Homo sapiens: one gene and its partners. The protein of the gene in region 4 purifies or fractionates together with the protein of the main gene of each other region. This does not show direct contact. Each region holds a gene or a part of one and is shown on either strand. Other genes may lie near its edges.

The links.
Region 1: the proteins of DEFB121 (region 4) and DYNLT2B purify together in Homo sapiens (affinity purification with mass spectrometry; 2 studies listed by BioGRID and IntAct, with this or other methods). This does not show direct contact.
Region 2: the proteins of DEFB121 (region 4) and CPS1 purify together in Homo sapiens (affinity purification with mass spectrometry; 2 studies listed by BioGRID and IntAct, with this or other methods). This does not show direct contact.
Region 3: the proteins of DEFB121 (region 4) and TMEM67 purify together in Homo sapiens (affinity purification with mass spectrometry; 2 studies listed by BioGRID and IntAct, with this or other methods). This does not show direct contact.

The regions. Positions count from the first base shown.
Region 1 is NC_000003.12:196,290,704-196,294,265, forward strand, and holds the end of DYNLT2B (dynein light chain Tctex-type protein 2B), read right to left. Parts: intron 672-3,562; coding exon 624-671; coding exon of another isoform or gene 601-623; 3' UTR 516-600; downstream 1-515. UniProt on the Homo sapiens protein: Acts as one of several non-catalytic accessory components of the cytoplasmic dynein 2 complex (dynein-2 complex), a motor protein complex that drives the movement of cargos along microtubules within cilia and flagella in concert with the intraflagellar transport (IFT) system.
Region 2 is NC_000002.12:210,559,560-210,566,599, reverse strand, and holds part of CPS1 (carbamoyl-phosphate synthase [ammonia], mitochondrial isoform b precursor), read right to left. Parts: intron 1-7,040. UniProt on the Homo sapiens protein: Involved in the urea cycle of ureotelic animals where the enzyme plays an important role in removing excess ammonia from the cell.
Region 3 is NC_000008.11:93,757,882-93,764,921, reverse strand, and holds part of TMEM67 (meckelin isoform 1 precursor), read right to left. Parts: intron 6,440-7,040; coding exon 6,346-6,439; intron 5,063-6,345; coding exon of another isoform or gene 4,929-5,062; intron 1,081-4,928; coding exon 981-1,080; intron 1-980. UniProt on the Homo sapiens protein: Required for ciliary structure and function. Part of the tectonic-like complex which is required for tissue-specific ciliogenesis and may regulate ciliary membrane composition.
Region 4 is NC_000020.11:31,404,319-31,411,016, forward strand, and holds DEFB121 (beta-defensin 121 isoform 1 precursor), read right to left. Parts: upstream 1,898-6,698; 5' UTR 1,835-1,897; coding exon 1,777-1,834; intron 768-1,776; coding exon 595-767; 3' UTR 527-594; downstream 1-526. UniProt on the Homo sapiens protein: Has antibacterial activity.

The DNA of each region.
Region 1 (3,562 bases), on a different chromosome or scaffold from region 4:
ATGTTTGAACAATTGAAATGGCTTTTCCCCTACTTTTTTCTCTGTGTTCCAGTGTAACAAGAATATAGTAGGGCCGGGCGCAGTAGTTCACACCTGTAATCCCAACACTTTGGGAGGCTGAAATGGATGGATCATGAGGTCAGGAGTTTGAGACCAGTCTGGCCAATATGGTGAAACCCCGTCTCTAGTAAAAATACAAAAATTAGCCAAGCGTGGTGGCACTTGCCTGTAGTCCCAGCTACTTGGGAGGCTGAGGCAGAAGAATCACTTGAACCCAAGAGGCGGAGGTTGCAGTGGGCCGAGATTGTGCCACTGCACTCCAGCCTGGGCGACAGAGAGAGACTCTGTCTCAAAAAAAAAAAGAAAGAAAGAGAGAAAGAGAGAGAGAGGGAGAGAGAGAGAGAGACAGAGAGAGAGAGAGGAAGGAAGGAAAGAAAGAAGGAAGGAAAGAAAGAAACAGAACATAGTGTAACAAAATCAAAACATTAAAAATATAAGGCCTAAAACACAACAGATTCAGTTGTCAAACTACTAACATCTTTATTTTGTCAAGATATTTAACAATATTAAAAAGTTCAGATTTCTTCATGGTCATGTCTTTTACCAGCTTTTCAAAGATTCATTCAGTAGTAGAAACAGCCAAATGCTGCTACAACGCAGAATAAACTGTCCTAAAAAATAAATACAACACACACACACATCCAGAATGTTAGTACTAAAGAGGGAATGAGAGCAGCACAGGCAACTGAAACTAACACCATCTCAGATCTTTCCAATTTTTTTTTTCTTTTTTGAGACAGGGTGTCACTCTATCACCCAGGCTGGAGTGCAGTGGTGTGATCTCAGCTCACTGCAGCCTCGACCTCCTACACTCAGGCAATCCTTCTACCTCAGCCTCCAGAGTAGCTAGGACCACAGGTGCCTGCCACCATACCAGGCTAATTTTGTTTATTTTTTGTAAAGATGAGGTCTCACTATGTTGCCCAGGCTGTTCTTGAACTCCTGGGATCAAGCAATCCACCCATGTTGGTCTCCAAAAGTGCTGGGATCATAGGCGTGAGCCACCTCACCCAGCCACCAATTTTCAATCAGGAAGACTTTTTCCTTCTTCAAGAAGTGAAGGGTTTCCAGAGTATAGCTACACTATTGCTTGCCTGAGGGTGACTACAAAATTGCTTGCTAAAAGGTTAGGATGGGTAAAGAATTAGATTTTCTGAATGCAAAAATAAAATGTGAACTAATGAACTTTAGGTAATACATATTCATAAAATAATTATTCACATATTTCCTGATTTATCACAGAAATAATGTATGAAATGCTTTGAGTTTCTTGGAGTAAACTCCATTACTCATCCCAAGAAACCATATTATAAGTATCACTGATAATAAGAACAACAGGACCTTGTCATAAATTCTGGATAAGAGAAATAGTCTCTGGGTGTTTGTTCTTAATTGATAAAATTTACTTGTCCATCTTTTAGTTCAGAATCACAAAATGCTTTCCAGAGCCCAGTCAAATTGCTTAAAACATTTTTAGGCATTTATTACAAGATTTCCACCTGCCTCAGCAACTCCTGCACCACTAACCTCACCTCCAGCCTGGTAATGATGGGATTAAAACAATTCCAACTCAAGTACCTGATGATTAACCAAAAGCAAAATTCTTTGGTTTAGCCCAGCTCCCTGGCTCCTTGGGTGGATAACTCTGAACTGTGTTCTACGACAGTGCTGTGATAAAGGACCTGCTTTGTTTTTAACTTCCGGTCCTTCATGGAAGGATGCTTTTGTAAAATGCAATAAAAATAGGTAACTCAGAACATGAAATGAAAAAAAGGAACATACAAATACAGCCCCAATTTTTTTCTTAGATTCACTGCACAGAAGATTACTTTGTCAAATTGCTGTAAGAGTTTCTAAACCAACCCTTATACTCAGTGTATTGTTTACCTCATCATGGACCTGTAACAAACAGGTCACAGAGCCGTGCTGGTCTGTGCACCCCACTGTGAGTGGCCCTGTTCTACAGCACCACCCAGAGTTCTCCAACAGGACTGAGCCCTGTCATCCAGCAGTTTTCCGCTCAATACCACATGATTTTCCCTCCTTTCTCATTTCCTCTGCCTCTACTAATGTTTCCTGGAATCTCCCAAATAAAGTGCTTTTTTTTTGAGACAGAGTCTTGCCCTCTCGCCCAGGCTGGAGTGCAGTGGCACAATCTTGGCTCACTGCAACCTCCGCCCTCTGGGTTCAAGCAATTCTCCTGCCTCAGCCTCCCAAGTAGCTGGGACTACAGGCGCCCGCCACCTTGCCCGGCTAGTTTTTGTATTTTTAGTAGAGATGGGGTTTCACCATGTTGGCCAGGCTGGTCTTGAACTCCTGACCTCAGGTGATCCACCCGCCTCGGCCTCCCAGAGTGCTGGGATTACAGGCGTGAGCCACCACACCCAGCCTAAAGTTTTTTATTACATATTTGTTCATTTGAGTATTGAGTGGCCCCCACTGGATGTTAATAGGCAGAAACCATGCCTGTCTTATTCATCATTTTGTCCCTAGCCCCTCAGGTGCAGAAGCTGACACATAATAGGAGCTCAGAACTATTTGTTGAATGAATGAATTGTATCATCTAAAGATGCATTTTTTGGCCAGGCCCAGTGGCTCATGCCTGTAATCCCAGCACTTTGGGAGGCCAAAGCAGGCAGATCACCTGAGGTCAGGAGTTGGAGACCAGCCTGACCAAATAGTGAAACCTTGTCTCTACTAAAAAATACAAAAATTAGCCGAGCGTGGTGGCATGCACCTGTAGTCCCAGCTACTCGGGAGGCTGGGGCAGGAGAATTACTTGAACCTGGGAGGCAGAGGTTGCAGTGAGCCGTGATGGCACCACCACTCTCCAGCCTAGGTGACAGAGTGAGACTCCGTCTCAAAACAAACAAACAAGATGCATTTTTTTTTTTTTTTTTGAGACAGAGTCTCGCTCTGTCTCCAGGCTGGAGTACAGTGGCACAATCTCGCCTCACTGCAACCTCTGCCTCCCAGGTTCAAGCAATTCTCCTGCCTCAGCCTCCCGAGTAGCTGGGATTACAGGCACCCAACACCACACCTGGCTAATTTTTGTATTTTTAGTAGAGACGGGGTTTCAGCATGTTGGCCAGGATGGTCTCAATCTCTTGACCTCATGATCCGCCCGCCTCGGCCTCCCAGAGTGCTGGGATTACAGGCATGAGCCACCGTGCCTGGCAAAAAAAACCATCTTCTTAGCTTGACTATTCCCCCAAAGATAGCTGATAAATTAAGATTTACATAGTACTTCCCACTGTCCAGCCCCTGATCCCTAGGGTAGTTAAGCATAAAATAAAACTTTGGTGGGGCTGGGCGCAGTGGCTCACGCCTATAATCCCAGAACTCTGGGAGGCCGAGGCGGGCCGATCACCTGAGGTCGGGAGCTCCAGACCAACCTAACCGACATGGAGAAACCCTGTCTCTACTAAAATTACAAAATTAGCCAGGTGTGGTGGTGCATGCCTGTAATCCCAGCTACTCGGAAGGCTGAGGCAGGACACTT
Region 2 (7,040 bases), on a different chromosome or scaffold from region 4:
GCTTTCCAATTTCGTAAGTGAGGATTAAAAGAAATTTAAGCATGAACTCTATTTAAATTTATTTATAAGAGCCTTAATTCAAAATTGCCATGGATAAGCCACAACAGGCCCAGGTCAACCAAGAACTACCTATCTATAAATCTGTAAATTGTCAAAGTGAAATGTCAAGTCATGAATTACCTGAGTCATTATAATCTGAGGAGAATCAGCAGGTTTCGAGAACAATTTGCACTGATCCTAGGCCCTTGAGTTCTCAAGCACTGAAGATTGTTGGAACCCTAGATGCTGTGATGAATAAGGAGATCCACCTCTCAGTCCCCCCTCCCTTTTCCCCAGTGATGGAGGATTCAATTTCTAGATAACATAGATAATTATTCATATTAATAATGGAAAAACTTGCTGCCCTGCTGTGAGGAGTGAGGTCAGCAAACCATCTCCTGCTGTCAAATTTTTCAGGGTCTATCTCAGCTGTAGAGGGCTGCATTGCCCCATGACTTTCTTGGAATACCCCATGACCAGTGTCTAAGTTAGGCCTGGATAGAAAGGTTCAGGCCACATCCAGGAAAGTCTGGTGGGCAGCAGCTTCCTATCCCGTTGGCCAAGGCTTTATCAAAACTGCATTACAGTTTAGTTCTCTGTCCAGTTCTACTTCCTGAAGCTTCACAGATGCTGATCCCTAATAGAGAGCATGCTCCCCAAACATCATCTCAGCATTTGTTTACAGAGAACCTAAGTCATGCTAGGCACTTAAACCAAATGATCAGTCAAAGTCCTTATGCCAAAGTTAATGTTACTTCCAAGTTGCCTGATGTTCAAGAGTGGAGTCCACATGTGAACATTCACTTTATTTGAACAACCAAGCACAAGTTTAGCATGCAACTGCCTAAAATAAAATTCATACAGAGAGAGAGATTTTTCTGTACTTTCTAAAAATCTCATGTTTTTATGAGATTTTGTTTGAATCTCATAAAACAAAGAAATACGTTTAAACTTTTGAACCAATATGTTTAAATTGTGGCTGCAATTATTAACATTATTTCCATCTTTTTGAAATTATGTTTGTATGTTTTTCTTCTCCCACCTATGTAATTATATTCATAAAACATGTAAACATACTCCAAAGAAATAGGCCAAGGATTGTAGCTAATATGGATATCAAGAAAAATGCCTTAAGGTTACTTTCCACTAACAGTTTGGCATTTTTTAGTCTGGAGCCTACACGTATTGTGAATCTGGGAGCCAATCAGGTTATAAAATAAGCGGTGAAAAATTGTGTTCTCTTGTTACTTCATATAAATTTAAAAATTAAAGATTAAATTACTAGTCTCTACGGCCTAGTAATACTAAATGTTTCCTTTGTTAGAAAATTTATTGGAGGAAGATTCATAAGACTGCAGATTTTTTCACACACAATATTTAGAAGGACTAAAACGGAATTTTCCTATGTATATGTAATTGCTCCATGTTTAATCTTACTTTATAATTTTATTTAGTACTCCTATTTCTAAATTAAACTGAATTACAAAAATAGCTATATGATCTCCATTCTCATATTACTTTTATTTTTTATTTATTTATTTATTTTTATTTTTATTTATTTATTTTTTGAGATGAAATCTCTCTGTCGACCAAGCTGGAGTGCAGTGGCATGATCTTGGCTCACTGCAACCTCTGCCTCCTAGGTTCAAGCAATTCTCCTGTTTCAGCCTCCCGAGTAGCTGAGATTACAGGCACTTTGCGCCACCACACCCAGCTAATTTTGTATTTTTAGTAGAGATGGGGTTTCACCATGTTGGCCATGCTGGTCTCAAACTCCTGACCTCAAGAGATCTGCCTGCTTTGGCTTTCCAAAGTGCTGGAATTACAGGTGTGAGCCACCAAGTCCGGCCCCCATTCCTATATTACTTTTAAAATGAGCATTCTAGGCCGGGCGCGGTGGCTCACGCCTGTAATCCCAGCACTTTGGGAGGCCGAGGCGGGCGGATCACAAGGTCAGGAGATCGAGACCATCCTGGCTAACACGGTGAAACCCCGTCTCTACTAAAAATACAAAAAAATTAGCCAGGCGTGGTGGCAGGCACCTGTAGTCCCAGCTACTCGGGAGGCTGAGGCAGGAGAATGGCGTGAACCCCGGAGGCGGACCTTGCAGTGAGCCGAGATCGCAGCACTGCACTCCAGCCTGGGCGACAGAGCGAGACTCCATCTCAAAAAAAAAAAAATCATTGTTAACTAAATTTAATGTTGCAATTCTTAATATTTGTAAAGTCTGAGATTTCTTTCACAGGTTATAAGTAATTTTTAATGAAAATACATTTTTGTGAGGGGGGGTTACATATAAGTAGAAATTCCAATAAACTCTCAATTGTTTTGGTTTGTCTGCCGTGGATGTTGATATTATTGTTTCACCATTGTCAAACAATATTTCAATGTTCTAATGATGTTACAAGATAGAATACTGCAAGCTCTGAAATTTCTCTAAAAATCTCATCTCTTTTAGGGGTTTTAAATTTTCCTCACAATTAAAATTCATTGTAAGCCTACATTTATGGATATATTTTCATTTCTTAGTAAGATGATTCATAAACTTTATGGGACCACAAATAAGTGACTGCAATTTTACCCTTTAATACTCAGTCTGAGATTCAGTTTAAAAGGGTAGATGTTTCAAAGTGTTTTCCAGAATCAGAATAATGCAACAGCTATTAATGAGAGTCACACAGCTACATTCCCCTTGAAAAAGGTTTGAGCATCTGTCCCTGGTGCTATGCTAAACTGATTGAGAGGGCTTAGTCTTAGGAAGTAACAGTCAAAATTCAAACATAATTTGTAATTTAATCTATAAAAGTTTTTGAAGCAGCCTAGTGTTTATCATTATTGTTAGGTTCTCCTTTGCATTCAGTATTATGTTATTAAAAATCATCTACTCATTGCTCATGTATTGTTTCACAACCCATCAGCATTCTGAACTAATTCTAAGGACATCGATCCTTTACTTCGAACCAGTTTTCTTCGGGTCTTTTATATCAAGATGGAAAACAAGTCAAAATGAGACTTTTCTTGCAGCCTAAAATTGCATTAGGCTTTTGTATATGTGGAGCTTACAGGACTATAAGAGGAAGAAACACATTGAAACTGAAAAACAGCATGTTTTGTTACAAACACATGACAATATTTAGGTTGAAATGGAAGAAATACGTCAACTGTAAACAGCATTGCCCTAAAATGTCCTATTTATATAATTGTTGACAGCCATATAAAGCAAGAATCCTTCCTTATGCTTTGATTTAAACAACCTATTCTCAAAAAAAGAAAAGGAAAAATCAAATTTGTGTCGTATTGCCATAACATTCAGTATGTAAATGAGCCCTTGAGTAAGCAATAAAATAACAGCAGAAGAAATGACTTAGAACATTCTGAAGCCAGGTTAAACACAACTATGGCATCGGGTATATAAGTACAATAACAAAACTTCAAATTAAAAAGATCCATCTGTTGTTTGAAGCCTAATTAAAATTCTAACCAAATTTGCTAATGTATATTTTGTTTTACGTACAAAAACAGGCATCCATGTGTCCTTGTTTTAACTTCAGCACTTACATATCTGTGAAATGGGAGGAACAGAAATGTTTCTTCTCCTAGATATGAGACTCCACCACTAAAATGTTCTGCCTGTAAAGCCTTAAGCTAATTCAGCAATAGATTCCATAAAAGGTTTGAAAAAAAAAAAAAAACACCATTTAAAAGTCAGTAATTCCCTTGAGCTAGTAGTAAAAATGAAAATAATTTACTCTGGGATTATGGTATTGCTGTTGAATCATTTATCTACGTAAACTATTTGCACTTCAGAAAAAGTAGAGGCCCCACATGTTTTTTTTCCATTTTCACCAAGGCCTAAGGCTATATAACATACGTGCTTTCTGGCTTACCTGATGTTTCTAAGCTATTAGTTCGCCTCAGTACTCATCCTCTTAAAAAATAAATCTGAACTAAGCACTGAAAAGTAGAAAGCCTAAAGCCAGAATTTATTTCAGGTAATTATTGTGTAGATAATATGGTAAAAAGTTAAAATCAAGTAAATGAAATCTTATTCTTTTATTCTTGGAATTACACTATTAAGATATGGATTTTTGAAATTTAGAATTTCAGCACAATTTGTCTTTGAAATATTTCATGAGACTTCTCTGCAGTTACAAGGCCTAACACTTCAAAATTCTGAAGCACTGTAACAGCAGTAATCAATTAGGCCTTACCACATTCTCAGTTAATAATCTTACAACATTCCAAGTTAATATTAAGTCATCGGTCTTTGGTTAAACATAAGCCAATGTTAAGGGGACAAAATCAAAAGGTTAATTTACTTAAGTACTTTTATGTTTGAACATTTATAAACAAAAGATTAAGATTTATGAATCATTTTTATTCTAATAAGGTTTCTCATTGTAAATAAAATACAGCATTTATAAAAATTTCATTACAAAGTATGTTCATAAAGTGTAGGTTTATTAATATGCCTTACTGAGCATCTGCTATGTGGCAAGTTGTTCAGAATCCTGGAGGAACCTACATATCATAAGCTAATTTTTACTGTATGGTGGTGATAAATTAAAATGGTCTTATATTTCAGTCTGCATTATAGAAGAAACTTAGTAAAATTCTTTCATAATGTAGCAACCCTATTGATTCATTTATGAGAACTTCAAATTAGTCAGTTACCTCCCTATGAAATTTAAAAGATCAATGTATAGCATTTAACAAGTTGAAAAAAATAAAAAGCAAACAGAGTAGCCTTGAAAATATTTTTATAAGTTCAACTCATTTAGATCACATGAAGAAAATCAAATGGAAGCTAAAGATCCCTAGGGCTAAGGAGCCTAACACAAACTTTGACCTTGGCCCGCGCAGCTTTTTTCGGGCCTCCGTCATTGCAAATGCCCCAGGAAATACAAATCCCATCAAGGGCAGTCAGCGTAGCATACCAAACTCCTCCTGAAGGCTTGAAGTGAATTCTAGCATGCCCATTGCCTAAGAGATACTGAAAACTTTCTACAGCACCCCTCAATTTTTGGAACAGGTTGGAAATATGAAGAAAGTCTAATACAGATGTAAAGGCAGAGGAATAGTCTCCATTTCCATAGCAATAAGACCTAATGTCACCTCTAGATCGTCAGAAAGTCTGGCTAGACATGAGCAAATTGGAATGAGGGAGAGGAAAGCACAGGTCAAGATTAGTACTAGTCCCTTGGGCAGTTCTACAGCCAGAATGCTTAGCTTCTGACCCAAAGCTGGGACTAGGGTACTGAGTGATGTGCTTAGGGCCTAACTCTCAAAGAGATACACCATGACACTAACAGTGACAGCCTCCTTAAATTTTGCATCTCAGGTACCTCACTCACTTAACCTAGTCTAGGACATTTAAACTATAGTTTTTTCAAGAGTTTTATGTCAAGAAGCTCATAATGTCAAGGCGTTGTTGGTGACTAATAAATGAATCTATATTTTAGAAAATTGGGGATATAAAAAATGGAAAAAATTAAAATGTTCAAAAGAAAGGCCATCTCCCAATTAGAGAAGTATTGCATGCCAAAAGTATGTAAAGTTGTCCATCAGGCAAACTAATTCTGCAACAGCTCATTTGGGACTGAACACAATTAATATTTCAAAAATGTAGTTTGCCATAGATGAAATCCGTCCTAAAATGTGTCTATATGTAGTAAAAGTCCAATAAAATAGTTATTCTTAAAAGTGTGTGATAACCCCATCCCCACTCTTACATCTAACGTGTACAGAGGCTCCAATATGATAATGAGTTATATTTCCTGTGACTATCTTTAAAGCTACTACAATGTAAGTAAATTATTCTAATTGTAGGAGTTTTTATAGTTGCCAATTTCTAATCAAATGACAATAGCTCCTCAAGACGGAACTAAATAGATACTTCTATGTGAAAATCAGAATATAAAATCTTAAAAATGAATGCCTTTCAAAAGAAATAATGACTACCAGTGCTCATTCGTAGCTGAAGTATCAGAGAGGACACTTGGATTGTTAGGTTCCTAGCTTAATTATAACACAGGTCACCATTGTTAAAAAATGAGTGGATTAATGTTAGAAGGAGTACTTATTGAACACTTTTCTATTCATAGGGAACTTAAGCTTTACAATTTAATACTTTTGATTTCCAAATTCATTTGCAAGTAAAAATAAAACTATTTAGCTTTGATGACTTTCCCAGACTTGTGAACTCAGAATTCTGAAGTCTGTAAGTTTCTTGAAATCAGAGACTATACTCTTATGATCCACTTATTTCTATTTATCATTCTTCCTGTATACTCCCATGGTAGAGGTTCCGTGTTTATTAAAGAATAAATGAATGAATGAATGAAATAGGTTATTATGGTGTCTATTCTGCCTTTTGGAATTAAATTTGCCATACTGAAAAAAAAAGATTATTTGCTTCATTTTCCTTGAGTCTGATTTATTATAAGAAATATCTTCTTAGAGATGTTTAATATTAAGGCAAAGGTGAACAAATCATTATTATAAATATTTGAGAATTCTTATCAAATACCTTGTCATTGCAACAACTTGTAGTCCATAAAAAACATAAGGACTCTTTGATCTAACCCTCTACTAAGTCCTTCTACTAAAATGTATAGAATGGAATTTTTTTTTAAATATCCAGTTTTTGCTTTAAAATGTTCAGTTTAATGGTTTAAATTTAAAACTTTAAAGATTTTTGAGAATTGTTCATGTGTGACAATCACATAATTTGTCAAGTAAATCAGTCATCATTTGCACTATACAGATGACAAAACTTAGGTTCAGAGAATATGTGACTTGTCCAAGAACAGGGCATTAGGAAATGCATAACAGGGGTTAGATTCCAGATCTTTTTGTGCCCAATCCAGAGTATATCCCACTATTACACTGTTACAGCCTGCTGAATGTAATAATGAGTGCTGAACATTTTCAGTACTAATGGAAAAAGATTATGGTATCTAAAACTTTTTAGTATTTAGTATTTTATGGTTGTTGATCAT
Region 3 (7,040 bases), on a different chromosome or scaffold from region 4:
ATACTTCATATTTTTCATTAATGAATGAGACAGAGGGAGGGAGGGTACTGGTCCAATGAGGACAGTGATGAGTGAATATATGGGTATTCATCACTTGCAAAATAGAGCAGGTAGGAGTCGGGCTGGGGCATGACATAAAACACACTAGGCTTGGGGAAATATTGGGCAAAAAAAATTGGTATTTGGATGCCATAACTCAGGTCAGCCTTAGAGAAAAGATGATCCAACACTAAGTAGCCCTCAGAAAAGCTGCTCAACTATTTTCCATATTAAACTTGGAAACTAAAGAAAAAACTGTGCCCGGAGGGAAGTCATGATGTAGGCCTCTAATAAATTAAAGATGCTGAAATTGGTATAATGTGCTTAAATTAGAGGGAAGTATATAGGCAGGCAGGGGTGTGTGTGTGTGTGTGTGTGTGTTTCACAAATACATGCACAAAGGGGGAACAGGAAGCAACAGAAAATGGGACTATAAATCAGGGTACCTGGGCTATTATTAGCATACATTTATGTTTTTCTATGTAACATTATAATACATAAGGGCTTTAGTACAGTACTTAGCACATAATTATATTACAGATTATATACAAATTATGTAACAACAAACAAAAATAGCTACCCTGTACAGAGTGGTTACTATGTAGCACTATACTAAGAACTGTATCTATTTACTTTATTACTTATTATTTCTGAGCCATTACAGCCTATGAAGTGGGTGGTAACATTACCATTCTAAAGACAAGGGATTGTGAAGTAGTGAGCTATCCAAGGTCAGACAACTAACAGACTGGACCAAAATTTGAACCCTAGTGTGTCTCACGCTCTGGGCCTCAGCTTCTGTATCTGTTAATGTCTACTTCTATCCTTCCTTGGGTTATTGTGAAAACTAAGTGATATGATAGGAAAACACTCTTAAAAGTACAAATTATACACTAATATAAGATGATATTAATGAAGTTAGCCCCCATCACACTGCTTACCTGTCTCCTAAAGCATTTACTACCATAAAAGAGTTTTCATTTCCATCACAGAGCTCACAAGTTGCTTGAGACAACAATGTTCCATTAATGTCTCTTTCCACTGAACAGTTTAGAAACAAAATAAAGATGTAACTCATAGTAAACATATAAGCTTCTACATATTCAGAAAATATTTAACAAAACCCAATTGTAACTATTATTCTATTAATTCTCAAAACACTTTATTTGCATTAAAGGCATAACAAGTATCTCCATAATAAAGTGTAGAGAAGTGATCCCTTCGTACCCGTCCATGCCTCCAAAAAAAAAGAGAAGTGATGCCTTCCCTATTCTCACATAGTAAAATATAGAAAATCATTTTCCAAGTCATCGTAACAATTAAGTCAGTATTTTTTTCCTCAAAAATTTTCTTACCTCTTATCTATACATTTCTGTCACACTAGGATGGGGAAGCAAGTATTTTCATAGATTACTGATAAGTTTCTGCAACTTAGAAGGCTTTTAGTAGTATCTATTAAAGTTTCAAATTCACATCCTTATAACACCACAATTTTGTTTTTAGATACCTAACTTACAGAAACACTTGAACATGTATATAAGGATATTCACTGAGGCATTATTTGTTAGAAACAACACGAATATTTAAAATAGCAGAATGATGGTATATCCATGCTACAAAATACTATGGAATATATTAAAAAGAATCAGGTAAGGCCAGGTGAGGAGGCTTATGCCTGTAATCCCAGCCCTTTGGGAGGCTAAGGTGGGTGGATCACATGAGGCCAGGAGTTCAAGACCAGCCTGGCCAATATGGCAAAACCTTGTCTCTACTAAAAAAAAAAAAATACAAAATTAGCTGGGTGTGGTGGCACGTGCCTGTAATCCCAGCTACTCAAGTGTCTGAGGCATGAGAATCACTTGAACCTGGTAGGTGGAGGTTGCAGTGAGCTGAGATCACACCACTACACTCCAGCCTGGGCAAGAGTGAGACCCTGTTTCAAAAAACAAACAAACAAAAAGAATCAGGTAAATCTAACAGAGCATCAGAGCATACCGTTAACTGAAAAAAGTATGCTAGAACAATATTTGTGTATGAAACATTTATGCAAACATACCACTTATGTTTCCTGTGGCTATATAGTGTAGATCCTTATAATAAAACAGGGAAAAAAAATTCTGAATGTGCACACACAGAGACACACACACCAAAATTAGTACATCATGAAGTGTAATAAATTTCATATTGCCATCCAACTCATAAAACTTTCATTAGTCCCATCCCTAAGAATACACCCCCCAAATACCGTGAGAATCAAGTTAATATTTTCAATGGAGGCAACAGTGCCAATGAAACTACTAAGAAGCTGGGTGCAGTAGATTGCTTAAGCCCAGGAGTTTGAATCCAGCCTGGGTAACATAACAAGACCACGTCTCTGAAAAAATAAGACCAGGCATGGTGGCTCACACCTGTAATCCCAACACATTGAGAGGTCAAGGCAGGAGGACTGCTTGAGGTCAGGAGTTCAAGACCAGCTTGAGATATATAGTAAGACCCCCATCACCACAAAAAAAAAAATTGTTAAAAAGTAAAAAAAAAAAAAGGTAAAGATAATTAAAAAATTAATCTTTGGGTAATATATGAAATATAAAAATAAAAGGCACAAAAGGATTTATTTTATTTTATTTTTTGAGAGAGTTTCGCTCTTGTCATCCAGGCTGGAGCACAGTGGCGTGATCTCACTCACTGTAACCTCCACTTCCCAGATTCAAGTGATTCTCCTGCCTCAGTGTCCCAAGTAGCTGGGACTACAGGCACCTGCCACCATGCCCAGCTAATTTTTCTATTTTTAGTAGAGACAGGGTTTCACCATGTTGGCCAGGGTGGTTTTGAACTTCTAACCTCAGGTGATCCACCCACCTCGGCTTCCCAAAGTGCTGCGATTACAGGCGTGAAACACTGCACCAAGCAAAAAAAGATTTAAAATGAAAATTAAGTCTCTTTCCCACTATTCCCAGGCACTCAGTTCTTCACTCAGGAGGCAGCATTGTTAACAGTTTCTTATGAGTCTTTTCAGAAATAACCTGTGCATATACAAGCACATATGCATATATAATGGTCTTTAAAAAGCTAAATAGTGGAATACCAAGTACATAAAATAGTGCTGATAAATAGCAGGTACTCAATAAACATTTGTAGATGAATGAATAAATTATTCCAAATCTTGCTTTTTTACTCAATATATCTTAGATTTCTTTCCATAGCACTATGTGTAGAACTGCCTCTTTATTTTTCCACAATTGCATTCTATACCATTGTATGACTATATCATAATTTAATTGATTGATCTCATCTTGATAGAATCTTATTTTGTTTATAATCTTTTGTCTTAGGAATAATGTTGCAAGAAAAAAACATTCAACACTTCTTCAGGCATACAGTTAAGTGTATCCAAATGAGAAATTTCTAGATGAGAGCTTTCCAGGCAAAGATAATCTGTATTTTTAATTTTGATAAACACCATAAATTTGCTTTCCACAGAGGTTGCACCAACTTAAAATTTTTCCCATTAATACACGAATAACTATTTCCCTGTATCCTTATAAATACATTGTCAAAGTTGAAAAAGTTTCTTTTTTATTTTGAGATGGAGTTTCACTCTTGTTGCCCAGGCTGGAGTGCAATGGCGTGATCTTGGCTCACTGTAACCTCCACCTCCTTGGGTTCAAGCAATTCTCCTGCCTCAGCCTCCAAGAAACTGGGATTACAGGCATGTGCCACCATGCCAGGCTAATTTTGAGTTTTTAATAGCGACTACATTCGTCAGGCTGGTCTTGAACTCCTGAACTCAGGTGATCCACCTGCCTCGGCCTCCCAAAGTGCTGGATTACAAGCGTGAGCCACTGTGCCCGGTCGAAAAAATTTTATAATAAAATCTGGTAGGTTAAAAATAAAATCTCATTTTAGCTTTAACGTACATTTTCTTACTCTGAGTAAAGTTGAACATTTTTTTCTCACGTTAAAATATTTTTTTCTATGTGAACTTTATTTATGACTCTTGGCTATTTTAAAAATTGGGTTATTCATCTTACTTTTATTTATCTGTAGGAGCTTTACATTTATTGAAGAACTTCGACCTCTGTCTATTGTATGCATTAATATTTTTCTTTAGTTTGTAGTTTGGTTTTTGGTATTATAATTTTTATGGCATTTTATAAATTTACCAATTTTTTCTTCTGTGGTTTTTCTTTTTTTCTTTTTTTTTTGTAGACACAGAGTCTCTCTATATTGCCCAGGCTGGTCAGGAACTCCATGGCTCAAGTAATCGTCCCACCTAGGCCTCCAAAGTGACTGAGTATTTTTGGTCATACTTAGGCCTGTTAAACCAAAACTATACAAATTTTTCCTGCATTTTCTTTAAGAACTTTCATATATTCATATTTAGTATTTGACTCATTTGGAGTTTAATTTTCTCAGAAATAAGGTAGAAACCCAACCTGGGTGTTTTCTCAGTTTTCCCAGCATCATTAATCAGTTTTATCCCCACTTATATGAAATGCCACTTTTTTCACATACCAAATTCCTATATGAATTGAATCTATTCTGATTGCCTGTTTTAAGTTCCATCAATCAGTCTGTGTATCCATAAGCCTGTCATATATGTGATTATAGTAGCTATATAACATGCATATTATCTGATGGGGTAGTTCCTTCTTTCCCTTCCCAGAATTTTCTTAGCTTTTCATATAACTTTCCTGTTAAACTTCAGACTCTATTTGTATATTACCCCAAAACAAACAAATAATATCCTGATAGAATTTATTAGGGTCCTTTAAAATATACAGACTGGTAGAAGAGTTGCATCTTTCTAATATTTAATCTTCCCATCCAAAAATAAAGAATGCATTTTCACTTAAAAGCCTGCCTTCATATCCCTCAGTAATACTCACAAATTTCTTCAATTATGTTGTACATTCCTTCTAAAGTACATGCCAAGGTCAGGTGCGGTGGCTCAAGCCTGTATCCCAGCACTTTGGGAGGCTGAGGCAGGCAGATCACCTGAGGTCGGAAGTTCAAGACCAGCCTGACCAACATGGAGAAACCCTGTTAGCCACTAAAAATATAAAATTAGCCAGGTGTGGTGGCACATGCCTATAATCCCAACTACTCGGGAGGCTGAGGCAGGAGAATCGCTTGAACCTGAGAGGGAGGTTGCAGTGAGCCAAGATCACACCATTGCACTCTAGCCTGGGCAACAACAGTGAAAACTCTGTCTCAAAAAAAAAAAAACAAAAATAAAAATTAAAATTAAAAAAAAGGATATGCCTACTTATTTTTTCTTTTTTGTTGCTACTGTATATGAGGTATTTTCTTCCATCACTGTTTATAATAATTTTTAGTCATTCTGTTGGGTGTTTTAAACATACAATCAAATCATCTGTAAACAATGATATTTTACTTTTTTTTTTTTTTTTTTTCATGAGACAGGGTCTTACCCTGTCGCTCAGGCTGGAGTGCAGTGGCGCCATCTCAGCTCACTGTAGCCTTGACCTTCCAGGCTCAAGCGATCTTCCCACCTTTGCCTCTCGAGTAGCTGGGACTACAGGTGCATGCCACCGTAACCAAATAATTTTTTTTTTTATTTGTAGAGATGCGGTTTCACCATGTTGCCCAGACTGGTCTCAAACTCTTGAGCTCAAGCAATACACCTGCCTTAGCCTTCCAAAGTGCTAGGATTAACAACGGCCTACCTTTTCTTTTCCAATGATAAATATTTTTTTTCTCTTACTTAAGTGCATAGTTTGCATCCTTTTCCAGGTCCTGACATTAACAGGAATGCTTACGCTTTTTCCCTATTAAGTATCAAGTTGGCTTTTGAGTTGAGACATATTTTGTCATGTTATGTTAAGGAAATAACCATCTAATCCTACAATATTAAGAGTTTTAAAAAACTCAGACAAAACTTTGTATTTTCTTCTCAATGCCTGCTGATGTTTTAAGTATCATTAATTTGTACAAAAATAATTTTTATAAACACTATTAAGGGCTGGACACAGTGACTGATGCCTATAATCCCAGCACTTTAGGAGGCTGAGGCAGGAAGATCTCTCGAGGCCAGGAGTTCAAGACCAGGCTGAGCAACATAACGAGACCCAGTCTCTACAAAAAATTTAAAAATTAGCCAGCTGCAGTGGTGTTATGTGTGCAGTCCCAGCTACTCAGGAAGCTGAGGCAGGAGAATTGCTTGAGCCACTGCAAAAATATTAAGTAATCACTTAACTATTTAAATTAGTGCCCTTTTCAAATAAAAACAAAAACAAGAATGAAGATTTATCACTACTTCTTTATAAGGAATCTAATTCTTACCTAAAATATGGCCAATGGGACAGTGACATTTTCCTTCGGCAGTTAAGTCACTAGGGCAAGAAATGCAGTTCCAGCCATCTTCTGTAACACCTTTCTAAATTAAAAGAAAAAAAATGCTTTTCTCTTTTTTAATTAACTTTCTTCTTCTAATCATGTAAGTTCAAAATGCCATAAGAGTATGTAACTACAGTGAATATTCAAATAAATCATACATATATGAGCCACATAAAAATTCCCTGGAGAGATAATTCATGCTTATATTCCAAAATGAAGCTCTATATTATCACTATGTCCTGAAAACTATTAAAGGATTAACTCCGGATAATAGTTCTCTCTTCTTCAGGATCTTTAATTCAAATGGATGCCTCTTTCATAATTATTTGTCATTTCGTTTTTCCATTTACAAATATAAAACACAACACAACACAAAAAGATTGAATCAACGGTCAGTTAATAGGTTAATCTTACCTGTTCTAAAACTCTATTCTAATTTTTAAAAATTCAAATACCTAAAAAATTTAGTCCAGGCACAGTGGCTCACGTCTGTAATTCCAGCACTTTGGGAGGCCAAGGTGGGTGGATCACTTGAGGCCAAAGCTTGAGGCCAGCCTGGCCAATGTGGTGAAACCTCGTCTCTACTAAAAATACAAAAATTAGCTGGGCGTGGTGGTGTATGCCTATAATCCTACTTGGGA
Region 4 (6,698 bases):
TCCTGGACTCCCCTAAAATACTCATAGATTGAGACCCACAGCATGCCTCAGCCTAGACTCTAAAGCCATTGCTATACAATACAATCACCACTAGCCACATTTAGCTATATAAATTTAAAGCTCGATTGAATCAAATTAAAACTTCGGGTCCGCATTCACACTGGGCACATTTCAAGTGCTCAGTAGCCACATGTGGCTAGTAGCTACCATATTGAACAACATAGACAGGAAATATTTCCATCATGGCAGAATGTTCTATTGGCAGTGCTGGTCTAGAAGAAAACAGGAATCAAGTAGATATAATGAATATTCTTTAATTCATGCCCTCTTGGACCAGCTATGGGTCAGCAGGCTAGGAGCTATTTGCAAGGTTTAGATTGTTACCACCTACTGGTCCATCCTGTTCTTCCTAACATGCACACCGGACACACACACACACACACACACACACACGCACACAACCTTTCTTCTTTATTTACTTGTTTCTAAATGTAACTAGGTGGAACTATCAGACAGAAACAGGGTGTTGCCAAGAATGATTTAATAGAACTGCAGGATCCCATGATGTTGAGACTCAAGGTTGGAAGAGAGGTGTCAGACTGCAGAAGTTGATTCCAGGCTTGTATTTGTGTCTGTTAATTTTGGTTTTACAGGTACATACTTGGGATCCACACAGCACTTAGCCTCAGTTTTGCATAATATATAGTATACTTCACTTTCTTTACATGTTGTTCTGCACCTGCCTGACTTGCCCCAACATTTCATGACTGAAAACAAAAGGGAAGAAGAGAATAGAGTCAGTTTTGAAAGAAAGCAGAAAGGTGTGAAAGGAAGAGGCTAAAGCCCAGTAGAGGAGTAGGAGGGAAATGAGGAGGTCTGTGGGGAAGAAGCTCTTACACAGGATCCCCTAAGTTTAAGGGAGATTATAGACCACTACGCTTTCTTCCTTCACTTGTGCCCCCTGTTAGAACCCCCAGAGTCCCCCCAACTCAGTGGCATAGGACCTACTGGATAGCTTCCCCTCCTTGGCCAGCTCCTTGGGAGGGGGAAGAGGACCCCTCTCCCAAGGGTTTTATCTCCCCCATATTATAATGTACCCAGGTGCCCAGTAGCAATTAGCCACCTTTTCTCATTGTTCTTTGGTACCCCCTCTGACCATATCAATGAAAGGTGACAGGAATATTAAATAAACTCATTTAACATCTGTAAGTCTTCTAGGGCACCTTTAAAACTCCCAAGAATATCATACTGCCTTCTTCACAACATCCTGGGACTTTTCTCTGGCCCCAACCAGTCAAGGGAATTAGGAACAGCTATTCCAGGGAACCTACAACCTAAGGTAACCCAGATGATTTGAGGTTGCATTAAAAAGTGGAATCAGAATCCTCAAACAATCAGAAATTTGAGAACCATTTTCCTAGAGGCAACAATGCATCAAAATTCAAATCCTTTCAATGAATGTTTTTGAAAAAGTCCCCATTTTCTCTATACTCCATACCCAAGTCTCTCTCTTTACACCCTATCCCATCCTCAGGTCATCACGTTCAGCTTTTCCAGAGCTAACCAGAGATAAGGTTGGAATGGTCAAGTACTGGGCACTGGGAAGACCATTTGGTACCAGAGAACTCAAACTTCCCCATAACTAGAGAGACTACCTAAAGGCCTCAATGAGCTCTACCAGGCCATTCTCCCAGCCCAACCTGTCAGAGTCCCCAGAGTTCTCTGAACATGCATCAGGTTTCCTGACTCCCATCCCCTTCTGGAGATCCTGTTTACCTGGGGTGACCTGGGCCAGGAGCAGAGTAACAGTCAAAAGCAGAAGAAGGAGCTTCATGAATGATGAATGATCAGGGAGGGATAGGAGGCTTCTCAACTGGTAAAACAGACAGAGGACTCCATTCTGGGCAGTCCAGACTGGTATTTATTGCCTTGAGGAGCATGGCAGAGCCAAGATCAGTGAACCAGAACGGGAACAGTCATTTGAGATCAGACAGGCAGGCAAGGAAGGTATCAACCACACTGCCTGAGGAGGCTGGGAGAGGGGGAAGGGACGTTAACAAAGAGAAGATACGGCCTTGCCTCTGAAGAATTTTATAATACAGCTGGAGAACCAAGAAGGGGAAAAATATTTTCATCTCTAATTTGTTTTTCATTAATGAGAAAAAAAGAGAGAGAAAAAGAGATAAGACAGAAAAGGAGTGATACTTCTCTGCGCCTTGGGTTCTTCCCAGCAACAAGGACATCTTAGGATGTCCCATATGTTGATGATTCATTATAATACCAAATGAAGGGCAGAGCAGGGGAAAATACCTTAATAGCTCCATGGCCATCACCACTGGAAACCAGAATGTCAGTATTCATGGAGTGGAATGAGCAGGAAAGCCATAGCCCTTACTTTTAACAGTACATATTTAATAGGAACAAGTAGCACCCTCATAGGTAGCAAAAGAAAAGCCATTTATTATTGTTGTGGTCTTTTTTTTATTATTACTTATTTTTTTGAGACAGTCTTGTTCTGTCACCCAGGCTGGAGTGCAGTGGCACAATCATAGCTCACTGGAACCTCGAATTCCTGGTCTCAAGCAATTCTCCTGCTTTGGCCTCCCAAAGTGCTAGGATTAAAGGCATGAGCCATCATGCCCAGCTTGGTCTTTCTTATAAGAAATGGTAGATTGCCCCAGCAACTTGGGAGGCCGAGGCAGGCGGATCACAAGTTCAGGAGATCGAGACCATCCTGGCTAACTCAGTGAAACCCCGTCTCTACAAAAAAAAATACAAAAAATTAGCCGGGCGTGGTGGCTGGCCACTGTAGTCCCAGCTATTCAGGAGGCTGAAGCAGGAGACTAGCTTGAATCCGGGAGGCGGAGGTTGCAGTGAGCCGAGATTGTGCCACTGCACTCCAGCCTGGGCAACAGAGCGAGACTCTGTCTCAAAAAAGAAAGAAAGAAATGGTAGATTGTAATCTTGGCCCTACTTCTTCATCCCTACTTGAATTCACACATTTGCCAAGGTCTCATCCTAGGAGAACTCTATTTCATTTTCCCTTCACTTTGGCCTTGGCATGTGATTTGCTTTGGCTAGTGATATGTGGGCAGAAGTGACGGTGTGCCGGTTGTAAGCCTAGGTTTTAAGAGATGATGAATATTTTCATTTGCCCTTCTGTGTCTCTGCCATCACTATGAGAAGAACATGCCCCAGTGGTCCAAGGAGGATGAGAGATACGTGGGGCACAGCTACTCCAGGCGACTCACAGATCTACAGTGAGAAACAGAGCTGCCCCAGGCATTCCAGCCTCAAGCAGGGCAATCTAGCCAAATATAAAGGATTGATGTTTTAAGCCACTGAGTTTTGGAGTGGAACATTACATAGTAATGGCTAACTTATACACAAGGCCAGCAGATAGATCAGGAAAGAGCCAAGTGCTTTTTAGGACAATAATGGTAAGGTCTATCTTTCTTTTCTTTTTCTTTTTTCTTTAAGACAGAGTCTTGCTCTGTTGCCCAGGCTGGAGTGCCGTGGCACCATCTCAGCTCATTGCAACCTCTGCCCCCCGGGTTCAAGCAGTTCTCCTGCCTTAGCCCCCCGAGTAGCTAGGACTACAGGCACGCGCCACCACACCCAGCTAATTTTTGTATTTTTGGTAGAGACGAGGTTTCACCATGTTGGCCATGGCTTGTCTCAAACTCCTGACCTCAGGTGATCCACCCGCCTCAGCCTCCCAAAGTGCTGGGATTACAGGCGTGAGCCACTGCACCTGGCCTAGGTCTATCATTTCAAAATGGACAGAAATAAAGACATACTAATAAGAGGAATATCTTCTTTCTAACATGGAAGAAAACAACAAGCCAGGAGCAGAGGCTCCTGCCTGTAATCCCCACAATTCGGGAGGCTAAGGCAGGAGGATTGCTTGAAGCCAAGAGTTTGAAACCAGCCTCAGCAACATAACGAGACTCCATCTCTACACACACACAAAAAAAGTTTTAAATAGCCGGGCATGGTGGGGCAAAGCTGTAGTCCTACCTACTAGGGAGGCTGAGGCAGGAAAATCATTTGAGCCCAGGAGGTCGAAGCTACAATGAGCTAAAATTGCACCACTGCACTCCAGCCAGCTCAACAGAGACCCTGTCTCCAAAAACAAAAAAAAGACAAGATAAATTTTCTTGTTGTCTGAAGAAAAATTAATGCTCCGGAGGTCACTTTTTCTATAAAGCCCAGATGGTAAATACTTTAGGATTTGCCAGCCACAACTATCACAACTACTCAACTCTACAGCTATAGGACAAAATTACCCACAGACAATATATAAGCAAATGAGTGTGGCTGTATTCCAATAAAACTTATTTATAGACACTCAAGTTTAAATTTTGTATAATTTTCACATCTCTAAATGAAATTTGATTGTTTTCAACGATTTAAAAATGTACTGGCTGGGCATGGTGGCTCACGCCTGTAATTCCAGCACTTTGGGAGACTGAGACAGGTGAATCACCTGAAGCCAGGAATTCGAGACCAGCCTGGCCAACATGGTGAAACCTCGTCTCTACTAAAAATACAAAAATTAGCCATGTGGGGTGGTGAGCAACTGTAACCCCAGCTACTCGGGAGGTTGAGGCAGGAGAATTGTTTGAACCTGGGAGGCAGAGGTTGCAGTGAGCCGAGATGGTGCCATTGCACTCCAGCCTGAACAACAGGAGTGAAACTACATCTCAAAAAAAAAAAATGTACCAAGGCAAACAGATCACTTGAGGCCAGGAGTTTGAGACCAGCCTGGATGACATAGCAAGGTCCCTTCTCTATTTTAAAAAAACTTGTTAAAAAAATAAAATAAACAAAATTATTGCTGATTTTCTTGGTATCTCCACTTTGGAAAAACAGTTTAACAGTTTCTTATAAAGTTAAACATAAACTTATCATACAACCAAACAACTCCTCTCTTTGGTATTTATCAAAGATAAATGAAGACATATGTCCACGTCAAAACTTGAATTGTCATAGTAACTTTATTCACCATAAGTGAAAACAACCCAAAAGTCCATTAATTAGTAAACAGATAAATTCTGATATCTCCATGTAATAGAATACTATTCAGCAACAAAGAATTAACCACTGCTATGCAACATACGGATGAACCTAAAGAGCAAGCTGGGTGTGGTGGTTCACGCCTGTAATCCCAGCACTTTGAGAGGCCAAGGTGGGTGGATCATCTGAGGTCAGGAGTTCGAGACTAGCCTGGCCAACATGGTGAAACCCTGTCTCTACCAAAAATAACAAAATTAGCCAGACATGGTGGCGGGTGCCTGTAATCCCAGCTACTTGGTAGGCTGAGGCAGGAGAATTGCTTGAACCCGGGAGGCGGAGGTTGCAGTGAACCTGAGCCAAGATCATGCCACTGCACTCCAGCCTGGACAACAAGAGCGAAACACTGTCTCAAAAGAATAATAATAAAAATAATAATAAACATTTTTTAAAAGCATTAGCCTGAGTGGAAAAATCCAGACCAAAGAAGAACATACTGAACAAGCTTATTCACATGAAACTCTAGAAAACACAAACCTAATCTACAGTGACAAAAAACAGATCAGTGGTTGCCTGGGGCTGATGGGAGGAAGTGGGCATTGACTGAGATGGGGCATGAGGGAACTTTCAGAGTGATGAAAATGTTCTATATGCAGATGTCAAAATTCATCAAAATTTACACATTATGTTTTATATAAATTATACCTCAAAAAAGTTGACTTTAAAAAAAACCTGTGCAAATAGTTTTTAAAATAAGCAACAGAATCCGATAAATAACATAAAACCACTTAAAATATATACACATTTAATGTGGTACACATATACCATGGAATACTATGCAGCCATCAAAAAGAAGGAAATCACATCCTTTGCAGCAACATGGATGCAGCTGGAGGTCATTATCCTAAGCCAACTGATGCAGAAACAGAAAACCAAATACCACATGTCCTCACTTACAAGTTGGAGACAAACCTTGGGTACATGTGAACATAAAGAGGGGAACCATAGACACTGGGGACTACTAGAGTCAGGAGAGAGGGAGGGAGGCAAGGGCTGAAAAACTACCTATTATATACTATGCTCACTACCTGGGTGACAAGATACATCATAGGAGTTAAACATCATAGGAGTTGCCTATGTGAGAGATGGATAGGAGTTGATTATGGGGATAAAAGTTAATAAATCAGTAAAATAAAATAAGAGAAGGGCTTTGTATAAGGCCAATGACAATAAATCTGCCATAAATACATAACCCTCTGCAACAGAGGACTAAAATAAAGTGCTATATTGACAAGGGGCTTACTTCTAAAGATCATTAGTAAGGTATCAGCCCCGTGGACTGGAACCCATTTCCTCTCCTTCCAGAAGGGACTGCAGAGAGGAAACCTGAGATGCCATTCAAGCAAACGGCACAACTTCCTCCACTCTTGAGAAAGGGGATTGTTTCTGGTTAGAAGGGTAGGATACTGGGCTGAGAGCCTTGAAAAATGAGAGAGAGAGAGAGAGAGAGAGAGAGAGAGAAAGAGAGCAACTCATGGGAGCACCATCCTTGCAGAAGTCTTAGTCTAGAAGGTACTTTCTTTATGCATCCAAGGAACCCCCAGTGGCACAGAGTTTCATCTACACTGAATGGTTTTGAGATCTACTTCCCTTCTTTAAAGAACTCCATCATAGCCCTGCAA